3 separate regions of the Homo sapiens genome follow, and all the other regions are linked to region 2. Evidence: fine-mapped expression QTL. A gene starts in region 2. Each other region holds a variant in brackets. All regions are shown on one strand. Distances are from middle to middle. Region 1 has its middle 21 kb from the start of LINC02324. Region 2 holds the start of FUT8 (fucosyltransferase 8). Region 3 has its middle 41 kb from the start of LINC02324.

Region 1 (5,227 bases), 170 kb before region 2:
TGCCCAGGCTGGGGTGCAGTGGTGTGATCATGGCTCACTGCAGCCTGGACTATCCTGGGCTCAAGCTATCCTCCTCCCTTAGCTTCCTGAGTAGCTAGGACTACAGGTGTGTGCCACCACACCCAGCTAATTTTTGTATTTTTAGTAGAGACAGGGTTTTGCCATGTTGCCCAGACTGGTCTCGAACTCCTGGGCTCAAGTGATCTGCCCACCTCAGCCTCCCAAAGTGCTGGGATTACAAGCATGAGCCACTGTGTCCAGCCCACACATTTAAAAAATCATTTTTTTTTCTGATTGCCAAAGTAATACTCACCGTAAAACATTCAAACACAAGATTGTGCTTGAATGTGTTTGAATGTTTTACGGTGAGTATTACTTTGGCAAAAAAAAAAAAAAAAAATAATCAGAGCATCATTGGTTTTGAAAATGAAAGTCTCCTATAGTTTCACATCTCAGAATTATTTTATGCTGACTTTTAAAAATGAGACACTAACATGTAACAGAAACACCTCTGAAGACTTACTTTTCATCACACTTAGAATGGACACCAGAGCCCAGAGCCCACACCACGGCCACATCTCCCTCCACTCTTTCCTCCCCCTACTTTGCTCCAGCTGCTGTGGCTGCCTTGCAGTTTTAGAACCAGTTAAACACGGCAATACTGTAGGCCTCTGTGATGGCTGGTTCTTCCGGTCAGAATATCCTTGCCCCAAATATTCAGGTAATTCCCGCCCTCACTTTTATTCAGGTCTCTGCTCAACTGTCACTATTTTGGAAAGCCCCTCTCTAAGCATCCTAAGCAGAATAGCACACCTCATAATTCAGTTTCTTCATACCACGTATCATTACGTGACATTTAATTCTGTCTATTTATTTGCTTACTGTCTATTTAGAAAACTGTGAGAGCAGCCGGGTGCAGTGGCTCACGCCTGTAATCCCAGCACTTTGGGAGCCTGAGGCGGGTGGACCACTTGGGGCCAGGAGTTCGTGACCAGCTTGGCCAACATGGTGAAACCCCGTCTCTACTAAAAATACAAAAAATTAGCTGGGCATGGTGGTGCACGCCTGTAGTCCCAGCTACTCGGGAGGCTGAGGCAGGAGAATTGCTTAAAACCGGGAGGCAGAAGTTGCAGTGAGCCGAGATCGTGTCACTGCACTCCAGCCTGGGCGACAAGAGCGAAACTCTGTCTCAAAAAAAAAAAAAAAGAAAACTGTGAGAGCAAGGACTTTGCCTTGCTCTCTGCATATCCCCAGTACCTGGAACAGAAACTGGCACATAATAGGTGCTTAATAAATGCATGTTGAATGATTGAATAAAATTAAACTCTATAGTTCTGAAACCTGTTTTTGTGTGTGTGGTTAACAGGAGTCTCTTAATAGATAATACCTAGTACTTTTTTCAATTCCCTTATACATTCATTTGAAGTGTGCATTATAAAATTCATTGTTCAACATACAAATGAGTATCATTGACTTTGGGATCAAAGGAAGGGAAAATTATTCAAAAGAGCACTGTATGTATTTACACAGATGAAGCTGCTTTTTTACTGAACGGTATATCATGGACATCTTTTCACATCAATATATAAATCTTTCTAGTCTGCACAGTGGTACACAGTTTATTTACCCAATTCTCTTTTGATGGGCATTTGGATTGTTTCCAATTTTTCTATATTATAGACAATGTTGCATTGCACATCCTTACACATATATCCTTTGCATGCTTTTAATGTTTTATATCTTTTATCTGAGATGATGGAAAAACCTACAAGCATGAATGTCTAGCATGAGATTGGAAATGCAGTCTGGGAGCTGAGAGCTATCTAGCTTGGGGGTAGATTGGAGATTTCTTCACACATATCCAATCACTGAAGTAATAGGAATCCATGAAATATAAAGAAGGAAATCGAGCAAAGCTGGAAAACATGAATCTTAAGCAATGTCTGCACTTAGAGGGCAGGAGGAGGGAGGCAAGAAACTATTCATTTTTGACAGTTATTTCTTGATTGGTATTTTCTGAAGACTGGAAACACAATGACACAGTATGAGTGATGTGGACTTTGTTCCTGCCTTCCTGTGGCATACAGTCTCATGGAAGAGGAACGCAGAAAATAAACAGTGAAATCAGATGATCATAATAGAGTGGATAATACAAGATGACATGGAAGTACATAGGAGGGCAATTGCCACAGACGACAGCCTTAATGGAAAGTGCTCTAGAGGTTACCTCTGAGCTGAGCCTGATGTAAATAGGAGTTAGCCAGGTGAGGTGGTGCGGGTCAGGAGTGAGGAAGACTTCCAAGCTGAAGGAACAGCACTTTCAAGGTTCGGAGTTGTGAGGGAATGTGGCACATCCAGGGCACTGAAAAAAAAAGTTTACTGTGTGTGTCAGGAGACACACACAGTAAAGTGTGTGAGAGTGAGGTGGGTGGTGGGGGAGAGGACTGAGAAGTAGGCAGGGGCCATGATAAGAGGTTTGGCTTTAATTTTAAAGGCAATGAAGAATTTTAAGCAGGGAGGTCGTGAGATCAGTTCTGTAGGTACATTAGACAATGACTCCGACTGCAGTGCGGACAATGTATTGAAGGGTGTGGCATGGGAGAGAATAAGACCAGAGGGTCACCTGGTGGGAACCAGGGAAGAGGGGATATGGCTCTAAGTCAGAGTAATAGTGTTGGGCGTAAAGAGCAGTGGATGGATTCTAGAGGCATTTAGGAGGATTGGGAGGTAGAATTGACAGGACTTCGTTACAGGCTGGATTGAAGGGGAGAATGAAAGTGAAGAATCAAAGATGACAAATGAATGCAAAGAGCAGCTCCTGGTTTGGGTAATCGAGATAGGAAGATAAGCTGGTCCGGAAGGCAGTAAGGATGAAAACTTTACCTCTGGACAAGTCCCGTTTTTTGTGGGATGTCCAAGTAGAGGTGTTAAGCAGACAGGAGAGAAAGATCTGGGCTGGAGACAGCTCGGTGTCACGGGCATCCAGACAGAATTGACACCTTGGTAAATGTGAACTCTATAACA[T/G]CCGGGACTTTGTCTTCTTCATTGTGATACCTCAGGGCTTAGAACCTTGCCTGATTCGTGGTGTGTGCTCAGTAAATATTTGTGGAGTGAAGGAGTGGATGAGATCACTCGGGGAAAGTGAGGGAAGAAGAAGGCCCAAGCCAGAAAGCCAAGGAGCACAGGGAGTGTCACTGCTGCACAGGAGAAAGAGAGACAGAAGGAGGGAGAGAGAGAGACAGGGAGGAGAGAGAGGGAGAGAAAAGAGAGAGGGAGAGAGAGGGGCATGTCAGGGACACAGAGAGGAAGCAGTCAGGGCAGGAGGAGGAGCTGGGCGAGGAGAGGCAGGAAGTGGTGAATAATGTCAAAGCTGTTGAGAGTAACTCAAAGGGGCAACAAAAGTCCAAGAGATTTGGACAACACGGAGGTCATTAGTAATCTTGAGGAGACTGTTTTCAGAGGACAGAGGAGTGACAAGGAAGGGTGTAAGGGGAGATAAGAAGTATACATGACCCTTTCAGGAAGTTTGACTGTGAATTAGGTATAAAAGGCAGTGAAAACAAGAGTATTTTTTTTAAGAGATGGAGACTTATGGATTTTTTCATGATTTTGAGAAAGAACAGCAGAGAGGAGATTAAAGACTCAACAAGATGACAGGATAATTGTTAGAGAGAGGTGAGGAGATGGGAGGAGATGAGATTTCCTTCAAGATGGAGGAATGGGCTCAAGTCAGTAAAGAGACAAGTTCCATTTTAACCAGAAAAATGAAATGCCGGTTACGATGAATTTCCAGGTTTGCAGGTGAGAAGTTGGGGTGTTTCTATCTGGTGTCCTCCAGACTTTCCTTGAGGCCACCAAGCAATGATGGGGAATGGCTATGGAGTAAGGAAAAGCAGTAGCAGAGCAGTGAAACGGGAGTCAATGGGAAAGAGGGGTCCATCCAGAGACAGGGAAGGCAACACAGGCCCAGTATCATGGAGCGAAGAACATGAGGACTGATGAGGCATAGGGCTGGTCAGTTGGGGATTATTCATAATATCTGAAGTTTCTGGAAAGTGATAGAGGTTGGACCCTCTACTGTCAGGATCTGAGAAATGAGCAGATATGTGAGGAGTGAAGTCAGCAGTTATATATAACTGGAGAGAATTCTGGAAGGGGAAAGCAGGAGTAGAGGGAGTGCTAAGGGTCATCTGAGCTTAATTCAGGATTTTTAAAAGAAGTGCAGCTAGGCTTGGACATGGGGCAGGAGAGGGAGGGTTTGAAATGTTGGAGGAAGAGGCCGGGCACAGTGGCTCACGCCTGTAATCCCACCACTTTGGGAGGCTGAGGCGGGTGGATCACCCGAGGTCAGGAGTTCCAGACCAGCCTGGCCAACATGGTGAAGCCCTATCTCTACTAAAAATACAAAAATTAGCTGGGCGTGGTGGCCGGTGCCTGTAATCCCTGCTACTTGGGAGGCTGAAGCAGGAGAATCACTTGAATTCGGGAGGTGGAGGTTTCAATGAGCCGAGATCACATCATTGCACTCCAGCCTGGGCAACAAGAGTGAAACTCCATCTCGAAAAAAAAAGAAAAAATGGTTGGAGGAAGAAGAAACAGAGAAGCCAGAGGGAGATGAGATCAAATGTGTGGTGGATGAGTTAGCCCTAAAATGTGGAGGGACCCTTCTCTTTTGTGACAGGAAAGAAGCTGGACAGGCTTGGCACACCAGCAGAGAGGTGGAGGTATGGACTCGAAATTCCGGGGAAATTGTTATTTCTCTATGGGTTATGCATGGGAGAGCAGGAGGTACTTGTTCTCTACTTTCCCCAAACCTCTACTTCACAGGCAATAAGACATTTGATGCCCACCCCATCCCTAGCAATCTGACCCACTGGTTAGGTCAAAACCGAGGACTAAGCATTTGGCAGTCTCTGCCCTGGCCCTAACAGTTTGAAAGACTATTGTAGCTCCTGCCTCAGTGCCCCCTTTTGGGAAGGAAGAATCACAGAAAATCAGGGCAGGAAGTGAGCTCAAAAACATGCGGTTCACATCTCAAAGTACACAGATGGGAGAAGTTAAGTCACCATCACCGAGTCTCCCAAGCATTCACCTTTTCTCCCCAGCTGTTAATTTATGACTCTCTTGTGAAACTCTTCATCATCTCTCCATTGTCCATGGAAAGAAGTCCTCAGTCTTCAGCTTGGGATTCAAGGCCCTCCACCATTTGGCCTCACTTGACTGCAAG
Region 2 (5,227 bases):
TCTCTCAGAATTTAACCTGGCAAGAGAACGACTGAGTTCTAGGAATTTTCTTGTCTGGAGAGAGTAAAATAAATGTATTTTTTAAAAGCTGGGACTGTTATCCACACTGAGAAGAGGCAGGGTATAAAATTCCCTTTCATAAGTGAATTTCCTGGAAATTCATGATTGGCTTGGAACTTAATGTGTAAAGACTTGTTCTCAAATATCAGTTGTTTGACAGAGACCTCCAGTTTTGGGATGGCAGCTAAATCCTGAGCCTGCCTTGGAAAGGGTTTTGATAATAATGTTCCATCACAGGTGGAGAAGCACATTGATTCAACAAAGCAGACTTCAAAACCACTGAAGAATTAGTTTCTGAGTGTATTCAAGAGATACCAAAGTTATTTGTTATTTTAACGTATATTATACTGTTCTATACAAATGCACCAAATCCTGGGCAAAACATTCCTAGGACAGGTTTTTTTTTTTTTTTTTTTCAGTTGGAAGGAGGTAGGGAAAATAAGTGCTTTAATTCCTAGGATTTTGGAAGTAAAAATGGAACACCAGACAAAAATGGAATTTTTAGGCAAATGTAAAGCTTTGTACTTGGGTATCTCAAAGTATTATACAGTGTAAACTATCATGATTATTAACCAACTAGAAGTAGTTCTTTTTTTTAAATTTTATTTTTAATTTTAGACATGAGGGTCTTGCTATGTTGCCCAGGCTGAAGTGGCTACTGACAGGCACGATGTGGCACTGCAGCCTGGAACTCTTGGGCTTAAGTGATCCTTCCTGCTTCTTCTATCTTAAAAAAAAAAAGTTACGCTTGCTTGTTAAAATATTTTTAAAATGCTGTGTTTAAACTAAGAAGTAAATATCCACCCCACCTCTGACTTCTAAAAATTATCTAAAGTATGACTGGTAAGATTTTTACCTTTAATCCCACATAAGTCTAAAATTTGTGTTCATTTCCAACAACCAAAGTGTGTCACTTTTATACCAGAATTTTGTCCTGCTTATACGTTTAGTACAGAAATCTCATGGGAGAGAGCATCCATGCATTTACAAATTGTTATTGAATTATTTTATTGAATGATGACACCCAAACTGAGCTAGAACATAATTCTGGCTCTGCTAGTACATCTTCTGTGTGATCTTGGACAAGTCACTCTACTTTCCTTTCAATTTTCTTTTCTCACAGGGAGATAATCATAAAAACGACTGTAAAGTACAGCACTTCATAGAGTGCTTTTTGTTTAAAGAGCTGACAATAAATACGAGTCTCAAGGTCTAGGAAAGCCTCCCTCACAACCTGAGCTGCTTGAGGACAAGGGATTTTCTTTTGAATCAGCAGTACCTTATTTGTGTATCTGTGATAGAGTTCCTGGTACATAAGAAGGTCTCAATAAATATGTGAATTTATGAATATTAGGCAGATTGCAACCTTGACAGGCCACTGCCTCTTAAATCTCCTTTCTGTGATCTTTTAATATTTAACATCTAAAAGGCCGCCGCTACTTGCTTTGGGATAAGTATCCCCGGTATGTACTTTAAAATGCCCAAGCCTAGAGAAATGATTCTTGTCTTAAGGGCACCATTTCGCTCTCCCACCGTAAAGCGCCCCAGGCTTGGGATCTGGGTCCCAAGGCTACAGGGAAGAGTTTGGAACGGGAAGCTCATCTTCCGGCCCTCTGATTGGCCGGCTCGCACTCCACTCACGCGGCGCGCAGCTCTGATTGGCCTCGGCGGCACCCCTCGTCCCGCGACTACTTTGTGTGCTGGGGCGGCGCGCTCCGGTCCTCCCGCTCAGCTGGCGGTCTGGGCTGCTCTGGGGCAGCCCTTCGGTCCACTGCTCTGCATCGCGGGCGCCGGGAATTTTCCGAGTCCGAGCGGGTAGGACGCATCCTAGGGCAAAGCCTCTCCCCTCTCCCCGTGCTGTTCTCTTTCCCGTACTAAATAAACTTCCGCCTCAGAGGGGCTGTCGCAGCCGCGGGTCGGGAGAGGCCGGGCATCGAACTCAGGCCCTCGTGGGGGGGGTCTTTCTCTTCGAGTGAATGTGGAAACAGCTCTTACAAGATAAAGTAGGGCTTCGCTGAGTCTCCTGGGGGAGCGATGCCATTGTAGGATCGCGCTGGAAGCAGCAGTCAAGCGGCCAAATGCGGGCTGCAGGGGCTGAGCAGCAGCAGCGCGCACCCCTAAAAGTAGCAAGGAGCCAGCTTCAAAACCTCTAGTGCGGGTGCCCCCTAGGGCCGCCGACTGAGCTGGCACGGGCCGGTCCATTCCCGGCGCTGTAGGGAGCACAGCATTCTCTGGAGGCGAGTCTCCTCCCGGGATCCAGGATCCGCTCGCGCCCCGCTCAGCCTCCGGCCTTCAGGCGGTAGAGGGCGGCCTACGCCTGTGTGCGAGCCGGAGCCGGCGTGCGCAGCCGCTGCCCTGCTGGAACTGTGCCGTCCCGCTGTGGCCCGCGGCTCTGCTAGGCGGTGGATGCTGCTGCTACGCTCTCCACCGGCGCAGCGAGGAAGGGGGCGGGGAGAATCCCTGGCACATGCCAGGGTCGCCGTAGGTGGCAGCGGCCGGCGCATGCGCGCCCTCTCCCAGAAGCCAGGAACGCCGAGGGGCGCGCTCCCCCATTCGCGCGCGCACGCCGGCGCTGGCCGAGGCTTCCCCGCCTGCGCTCGTTGTCAGAGCCGCTCCGGCGCGTGCGCGCGTTATCTCCGGCCGACCCGAGCAGCCGGTTCCCTCCTCTCCAGGCCCCCTCCCCATCCCACCCCCGCCGCCTGGCCCCAGCCGACCCGTCCCTTCGTCTCCCCGCGGAATGGGGCCGGCACTGCTCAGGGTCGCGCGCCCTGGACCCAGCTCGCTCTCGGTCTCGCGCTGTCAGCGACTGCCCGGCTCGCGCCGCCTCGCGCTCTGCCTCAGTCAGTGGCGCCGAAGGCTCCGTTAAGCGGCGGCGGCGGTTCCTGTTTCCGTTTCTTCCTCTCCGTTCGGTCGGGAGTAGCATCCTCCACTCAGCCACCCTTCCCACTCCCCCATCGTGGGGCAGCTGCGGCTGAGGGCTGTGGCTTTGGCAGCTGCGACGGGGAGCGGCGGAGACCGCCTCTGCTCCCGCCTGGGGTAAGGGGGCGTTTTGGGAGCCGGGCCCCGCGCGCCTCGGGGTCTTGGGCTGGGCTGCGCGCGGGATCTGAGGAGGCTCCGCGGCTGTCCCTGCTCGTTCACCCGGGCCTGTTGCTGCAACTGCTGCCGGTTAACCAGCGGCTCTCGGAAAAGTGGGGAGGGAGCCCCCGGGACGCTCTGGCGGATGCCTTGGCGCAGCCCCGGGGGCGCGGGCAGAGGGTGAGGGGCGCCCGCCTCTCCAGCCGGGACGCGGAGCTGCGCCGCTGCTGCCCTCGGCGTCGCGCATCCTTGCCTAGGGCAGGGGCCAAAGCCTAGGGAAGGAGAAGGGTTGGGGGCGGGGGTGGGAGGTGTCCGTCGTTTCCCCTCCACACCTACCTTCCCTTCGTCAGCAGCTCGGTCCCTGGAGTCGCGGTTTGTGGGGAGGAAGATGCCCGTGCGTTATGGGCTCTTTCTGAGTGCTGCTCGGGCTAGAAAGCAGGGAGTGGACCCTCACAAAGATCCGCGAGGGACTGATGCAGGGCAGTTAAAGGCTTGAGTGCAGCTGTACTCCCTTTTGATGTGCAAATGACGAGCTGGCGGCTTTTGAGTATCAACTTATTTGGGAAGGTTAAATGAGTCCATATTTATCAGTTCTAGGAGGTTTGTCCTGCAGGATTGAGTGGGTTGTCGGGTGCAGCACCTGTTCTTTCTTCACAGTGGGGATTGCAATCTTCAGAGACGCAGTGTATTTCTTAAGTGGCAGTGTCATGCTTAGGGTTTGTCCCGGATGAGCTTTTATTTTAGCATTTTGCCATATAATATATAGATTGAGGCCTTGGTTAAAGGCACGGACAGGTGGTGTTTTTTTCCTTCCTATGTTTTAATTATTCACAGTTTATTTAAACCCACTCAGGAAGGTGGACCCAGAAAAGCCAAATTCTGTAGTACATAACCCCAAATTTCAAGGTTTTGCGGAACAAATTCAACACAAGTTTTGTGTCAGTTTAGAGTTAAACGCATCTCAAGTAACTGACTTAACTGGCTTGCCTCTATGAAAACTGTAGGCAGGTTTCATTATAGATTTTTTTTTTCTTGTTATTCCGGCGGTTAGGTGCATGTTTATTTTCTTGATTAAATTTACATTCTATGTTTTATGACTAATTCTTTAAATAGGTGCATCATATAGAAAGTATTTTAGGAGAGAAATTATTATTTAAGCACTACAGTATATCAGATATATGAGAAATAATGGAGTTGTAGTCTCTGCTCTTTAAAATAACTGTAAAAACATCTTAAAACCCTATGCCAAATAATAAGGCCCTGTACCTTGCTGTCCTTGTGAAATCTGGTATGTGTATAGAAAATCTTAATTACTTGATTTGTAAATACTACAGTAGTATTGAAAAGGTGGGAATTCAAGCATTTGTAATTGTGATTTCACAGGTTTAGTGTGTAAAAAATGCAGGGAGTTAGAGATGAATAGGCTATAAGACACGTACAAAGGTAGTTCCAAGACATGGATTTTCTTTTTGCTGCCTTATAAATTGAGAATTCTATTTGAATTCAAGAGCTGAACAGCTGGAATGAAACTTGCATAGATTGCAGAAACAGATGCAAAAATGTATCTTTGGTCAAGTTGTGAGTTAACTTGAAGAGTGTCTTGTGTAATAGGATAGTGATTCAAAATAATTTCCATAAAGTACGGCCTTATATAGGTTATATTTTGAGGATATTTTTGAATTTAAAAAGTCACCTGAAGTTGTTTTCCTACAAATCAGTTCTGTTTAAGATGTATGGAATCGAAAAAAACAAAACAAAACTAATTCTGATTACATCCTGCATTGTTTTGTTGCAAATTCTTACCAGTTATTTTTACGCAATTGGAGTGTCCTTAAAAGTGGTGAATCTTAAAATTTGCCAGTGGATTGGAAAAAACTGTTAACTTATTATTTTTAAAAATGCTGTTATATTAGTACATTGGTCTGGAGGGGGAGCTAGTGCCAAAGCAAAGTATAGCTTAATAGCTGTTTGAACTTTTAAAACACCCAAAACCAGATTTTTATGACCAAAAGAAACATAAATTTTTAATTAAAAGAGTAGGAAATTGATGTGGGCATATATATGTACATAGTTATTTGTGGAGTGAATATAT
Region 3 (5,227 bases), 150 kb before region 2:
GCTCTCTACCCTCCTGTCCTTACCACTGAGCCCAGGTGACTGTGAGAAATTGAAGGTGCTTGGTTAGAACAGGGCTTAGTTCTACTCAGCTGAATTTTCTATTATTTTCATTTTAAAATTTCTGACACTTGGGGTAGCAGTCTTGAGTGCACTAGACACATAGGCACAGTCTCTGGAGAACTCCGAACAATACACAGGGCAGGTTTATGCGGGGATTGACAGTGTCATGGGGCTTGGGGGTAGTGTCTTAGCCTGGTTGTGAATTTAACCCAGATCTTGCAAAATCTCCAGACATCCTTTTTTCTCACTTTTTTTTTTTTTTTTCAAGGCCCTCATGGCTCTGGGAGCTTTGGTCAAGGCTAAGACTCATTCCCTCTCCAGTGTATATTTAAGAACCAAACATGATTAAAAACAGATGTGATTAAGAATGTGAGCTTGAGATTAAACAGACCTAGGTTTAAATCCTAGCTCTGATCCTCAAGTAACTGTACCAAGTCATTTAACCTCTTCTAGCCTCAGTTTCCTCATCTGGAAAATGGAGACAGAAATTGTGTCCACCTAATAGGATAATAGGATTATTGTAAGAATTAAGGAAAACAATGCATGTAAAGCATTTGGTGCTCAGCAACTGGTAATGATCACTACCACCAGGATGTTTGGGAGCCGCAAAGATAGAAACCAAAGAGAAACAACACCTCTGACTTGGAAAAAACTTTCCTTCTCAAGGGGAGAAACAAAGAACCTCTGTGTGACATAGACAAAGTGAGTCCAAGGTAACATACTCACGGACAGGAGAGAGGGGCACACAGTATATCCAAGAGCTGGGAGCTTCCTACCAAGGGGAAATCTGAGAAATCTTCAGAAAAGAGGTAAGTCTTGGATGGACGTGGAGGGATAAGTGAGAGGAGAGATGACAGGTGGGCTAGAGGCCAGGAGCTGGCTGCTGGGGCTGTGGATATAGCTGTATAGGCTAGCAGTTAAGAGCTCAAGTGCTGGAGTCATAGGACATGTATTTGAGTCATTGACTGTGGTGTTGAGAAAGTAGACTGGGTGGCTTAGAAACAACACTGATTTATTTCTCATGGTTCTGGTGGCTGGGAAGTTCAAGATCAAGGTGCCAGCAGATTTGGTGTCTGATGAGGGCCTGCTTCCTGGTTCACAGACAGCTGCCTTCTCACTGTGTCCTCACATTGTGGAAGGAGTGAGGGAATCTCTCTGGGGTCCCTTTTTTGTTTGTTTGTTTGTTTGTTTAAGACAGGGTCTTGCTCTGGCATCCAGCCTAGAGTGCAGTGGCATGATCATAGCTCACTGCAGCTTCAACCTCCTGGGCTCAAGCAATCCTCCCACCTCAGCCTCACAAATAGCTGGGACCACAAGTAGATGCCACCACAGCTGACTTTTTAAAATTTTGTGTAGAGATAGGGACTCCTTATGTTGCCTGGGCTGTTCTCAAACTCCTGGGCTCAAGTGATCCTTTTGCCTCTGTCTCTCAAAGTAATGGGATTACAGGGATGAGCTACAGCGACCAGCCTGGAGCCTCTTTATGACAGCACTAATCTCATTCCCAAGGGCTCTGCCCTCATGACCTACTTACCTCCCAACGGCCCCCCTTCTAAATACCATCGTTTTGGGATTAGATTTCAACATGTGAATTTTGGGAGGACACAAACCTTCAGATTATAGCAGTTACCCTCCACAAGCCTCACTTTTCTTAATTTTGTAATATACAGAATGGTAGTTCCTTCCTATTAGGATTTTTATGAGGAGTTAGTAAAATAATGCTTGTAAAGTGCATTTTAAAAATTTAGTAATTACATTTCAGAGACACAGCCAACGTTACTGCTATTTTTGTATTGTATTTATTATTATAATTCCATACTTGGCCTTGTTTTCCAGAAGAATACTTACACAACCATTCAGGGTCTTTTTCCCCATGTTTTTGGATACCTGCATTCATTCATCTATTACATAATAATAATAGAATATATATATATATATAAATATATATAATTATTTTTTTTTTTCTGAGACGAGTCTCGCTCTGTTGCCCAGGCTGGAGTGCAGTAGCATGATCTCGGCTCACTGCAAGCTCCGCCTCCCGGGTTCACGCCATTCTCCTGCCTCAGCCAAATAGCTGGGACTACAGGTGCCCGCCACCACACCTGGCTAATTTTTTGTACTTTTAGTAGAGACGGGGTTCCACTGTGTTAG[C/T]CAGGATGGTCTTGATCTCCTGACCTCGTGATCTGCCCACCTTGGCCTCCCAAAGTGCTGGGATTACAGGTGTGAGCCACTGTGCCTGGCCAATAGAACATATATATATTATGTAATAATAACAGCTGACATTTAAATAGTATATTCTATGTGCCAGGCATTGTTCTAAGTACAGGGTATACTGGGTATGTACAAAACTCATTTAATCTTCCCAATATTGCTGTGAAGTAGGTACTGTTATTATTCATATTTTATAGAGGATAAAATTGAGGTCCAGAGAAGTTAAGCAGCTTGCCCAAGATTACACAGCTAGTAAGTCACAGAACTAGAATTTTTGGTCCCAGAGAGTCTGGCTCAGAATCCATGCTCTTAACTACTTGGCTATTGAACATGCACACTATTCTCAAAAACTCCGGGAAGAATGGAAGTACAAAAATATGAATTAAACACTGATCCTACCAGAAGGGAGATAGTAGCCAGGGCGAGTGATAAGACACAGTAAGATCATACCCACCCATAGCGGGTGATCATGTGGCCTGGAGGCCCACGTGGGCCTCTTGACCTGGCTGAGTTATCCACTGGAATCAGCTTGGGTCATTGGACGAAGTCCTTGTTGGAGCCTGTGTAAAGTTAGTCAACACACTAACAGTGCATTGCTGGCACCTTTTTGCCACAGGTATCAGCACAGTTGGTGCTCCCTGGCCCACTGGAAGGCTGGATGATAGAATGTGGCTGGATGAGTATAAACCCTCGCTAGTATTAACTGAAAAAATAACTTGAAGTACAGAGCCTACTGAGTGAGGGTTGAGTCATTGCCTCACTGAGACATTGTATCATTCACTGACTGGACACCTGTTTTTTGCCAAGTTATCTTCTCTGTGATGGATGTGACATTGAAAACATGTTTTGTTTTGTTTTTTTCCTCCTGAGCACACTCTCAAAATCCCTAGGATTATTCCCACTTGCCCCTTCCCAGCTTCAAATGGTTTATGCCTTAGTATAAACATTTAGAAGGTTGGAGCTAAAAAGGTCCTTGATAGTGAGTGGTATCCTGGATACCAGTTTGCAAGAACCAATTGTTAAATTTTCAGGAATTTTGTAAGCTGATTGTTAAACACAGCCGTTCTCAAAAAATTGAATTATATAAACTTACAATCAAATAAACCGTATTAAAACAAAGGTAATAAATATTCAAAACTGATTATTTCAGTAGAGCGCAGTGGCTTATGCCTGTAATCCCAGCACTTTGGGAGGCTGAGGCAGGTGGATCATTTGAGGTCAGAGGTTCGAGACTAGCCTGGGCAACATGGCAAAATCCTGCCTCTACTAAAAATACAGACATAGCTGGGTGTGGTGGTGGGTGCCTGTAATCCCAGCTACTCAGGAGGCTGAGGCAGGAGAATAAAGATACAATTCTACAGGAGAATCACTTGAACCTGGGAGGTGGAGTTTGCAGTTGAGTCGAGCTAGTGCCACTGCACTCCAGCCTGGGCAACAGAGCAAGACTCCATCTCAAAAAACAAAAAGAAAAAAAATCCCTTGTTACTTCATAATTACTTTACTATATGATATGCGATTGCATGGCCAATGCTGCATTCAGTGATGTGTTGTTGGTAAGTTCGAATTTAGCCATGGTGGTAGTATTTACACCACTGAAATCAGCAGACACTATAAATCAGTACCCCTTCCCCCAAAGCCCATTGTTGCCCAGAACATCATTTACCTTAGAAATAATCAAATCTGGTTATTTTCACCCTGGGTTTCAGTCAAGGGCATCCACCGAGAGTCCTTGGTTACTGCTAGAGGAGGAGGAAGGACAGGCAAGGTGAGAGCAGGTGAGGCTCTGCCCATTGTCCCTGCCCCTGAGCTAGGCCAGCCTGATGTGTGATTGTCATTTATTTATTTATTTATTTATTTATTTATTTATTTATTTGAGACAGAGTCTCACTCTGTTGCTCAGACTGAAGTGCAATGGCGTGATCTTGACTCACTGCAACCTCTGCCTCCCCACCCCCAGGTTCAAGCAATTCTCCTGCCTTAGCCTCCCAAGTAGCTGGGATTATAGGCACCTGCCACCACGCCCAGCTAATTTTTGTATTTTTAGTAGAGACAGGGTTTTACCATATTGACCAGGCTGGTCTTGAACTCCTGACCTTGTGATTCACCTGCCTTGGCCTCCCAAAGTGCTAGGATTACAGGTGTGAGCAACCACACCCGGCCTGTTTGTTTGATCTAGTCTAATCTTACTTTATTCTTTTTTTTTTTTGAGACAGAGTCTCGCTCTGTTGCCCAGGCTGGAGTGCAGTGGCACGATCTTGGCTCACTGCAACCTCTGCCTCCCAGGTTCAAGCGATCATCCTGCCTCAGCCCCCCTAGTAGCTGGGATTACAGGGGCGTGCCACCACGCCCAGCTAATTTTTTGTATTTTTAGTAGAGACAGGGTTTCACCATGTTGGCCAGGCTATCCTTGAACTCCTGACCTCAGGTGATCCACCCGCCTCGGCCTCCCAAAGTGCTGGGATTACAGGCGTGAGCCACCGTGCCCGGCCTATTTTATTCTTATTTATTGTTCAGGAAATTGAATTTTTACAGTTCAGATCCAGAGGTAAGTGACTCTAGGCCTCCCAGAGCCTAATCTACTTCCATATATGAGGGAGCTGACATCATGGCACCCCAGGTGGGAGACAGACTCCTGTAGACCCTGACCTGGGGCTTTTCTGGGCCCCCAGCCACGGGAGACTCTTTCTCTGCTCCTACCTGATATGTAGTCCTCATCGGAGCTGCGTCCACTGTGCCTTTTTGCCCTGTAGACATGGTGGATTCCCAACCAAGTCTTGCAGGTAGTTTTCCTCCCCTAATAAAAACCTCTCCTAACACCTCAGAGTGACTGCCTGATTTGCTGAACCCATCTTCCCTGACTGATTTGAGGTCAAGTAGAAAAATCTTACCCTCACAAACAGGTTTTCAAACCTGTCTCAACTTTTGGTTGCAGAAATCTGCATAAAGCCTTAGGAAA

Evidence for each region. PIP is the estimated chance that this variant, and not a neighbour inherited with it, causes the effect.
Region 1: its variant is the best candidate, but not a certain one, in a credible set for the expression of FUT8 in fibroblasts (GTEx, PIP 0.54).
Region 3: its variant is the best candidate, but not a certain one, in a credible set for the expression of FUT8 in testis (GTEx, PIP 0.51).

The regions. Positions count from the first base shown.
Region 1 is chr14:65,240,838-65,246,064 of GRCh38, forward strand. No RefSeq gene overlaps it. Among named protein-coding and RNA genes, the nearest start is that of LINC02324, 21 kb to the left of the region's middle. The variant T/G (reference allele first, on the strand shown) is at 3,025.
Region 2 is chr14:65,410,119-65,415,345 of GRCh38, forward strand. It overlaps FUT8 (fucosyltransferase 8), which reads left to right and starts at 2,612. Exons shown (of 11, transcript NM_001371533.1): 1 at 2,612-3,096. It overlaps FUT8-AS1 (FUT8 antisense RNA 1), which reads right to left and starts at 2,499. Exons shown (of 1, transcript NR_024334.1): 1 at 474-2,499. RefSeq lists enhancers at 1,791-2,110, 3,353-3,917 and silencers at 2,651-2,810, 3,111-3,230, 3,241-3,430.
Region 3 is chr14:65,260,608-65,265,834 of GRCh38, forward strand. No RefSeq gene overlaps it. Among named protein-coding and RNA genes, the nearest start is that of LINC02324, 41 kb to the left of the region's middle. The variant C/T (reference allele first, on the strand shown) is at 2,212.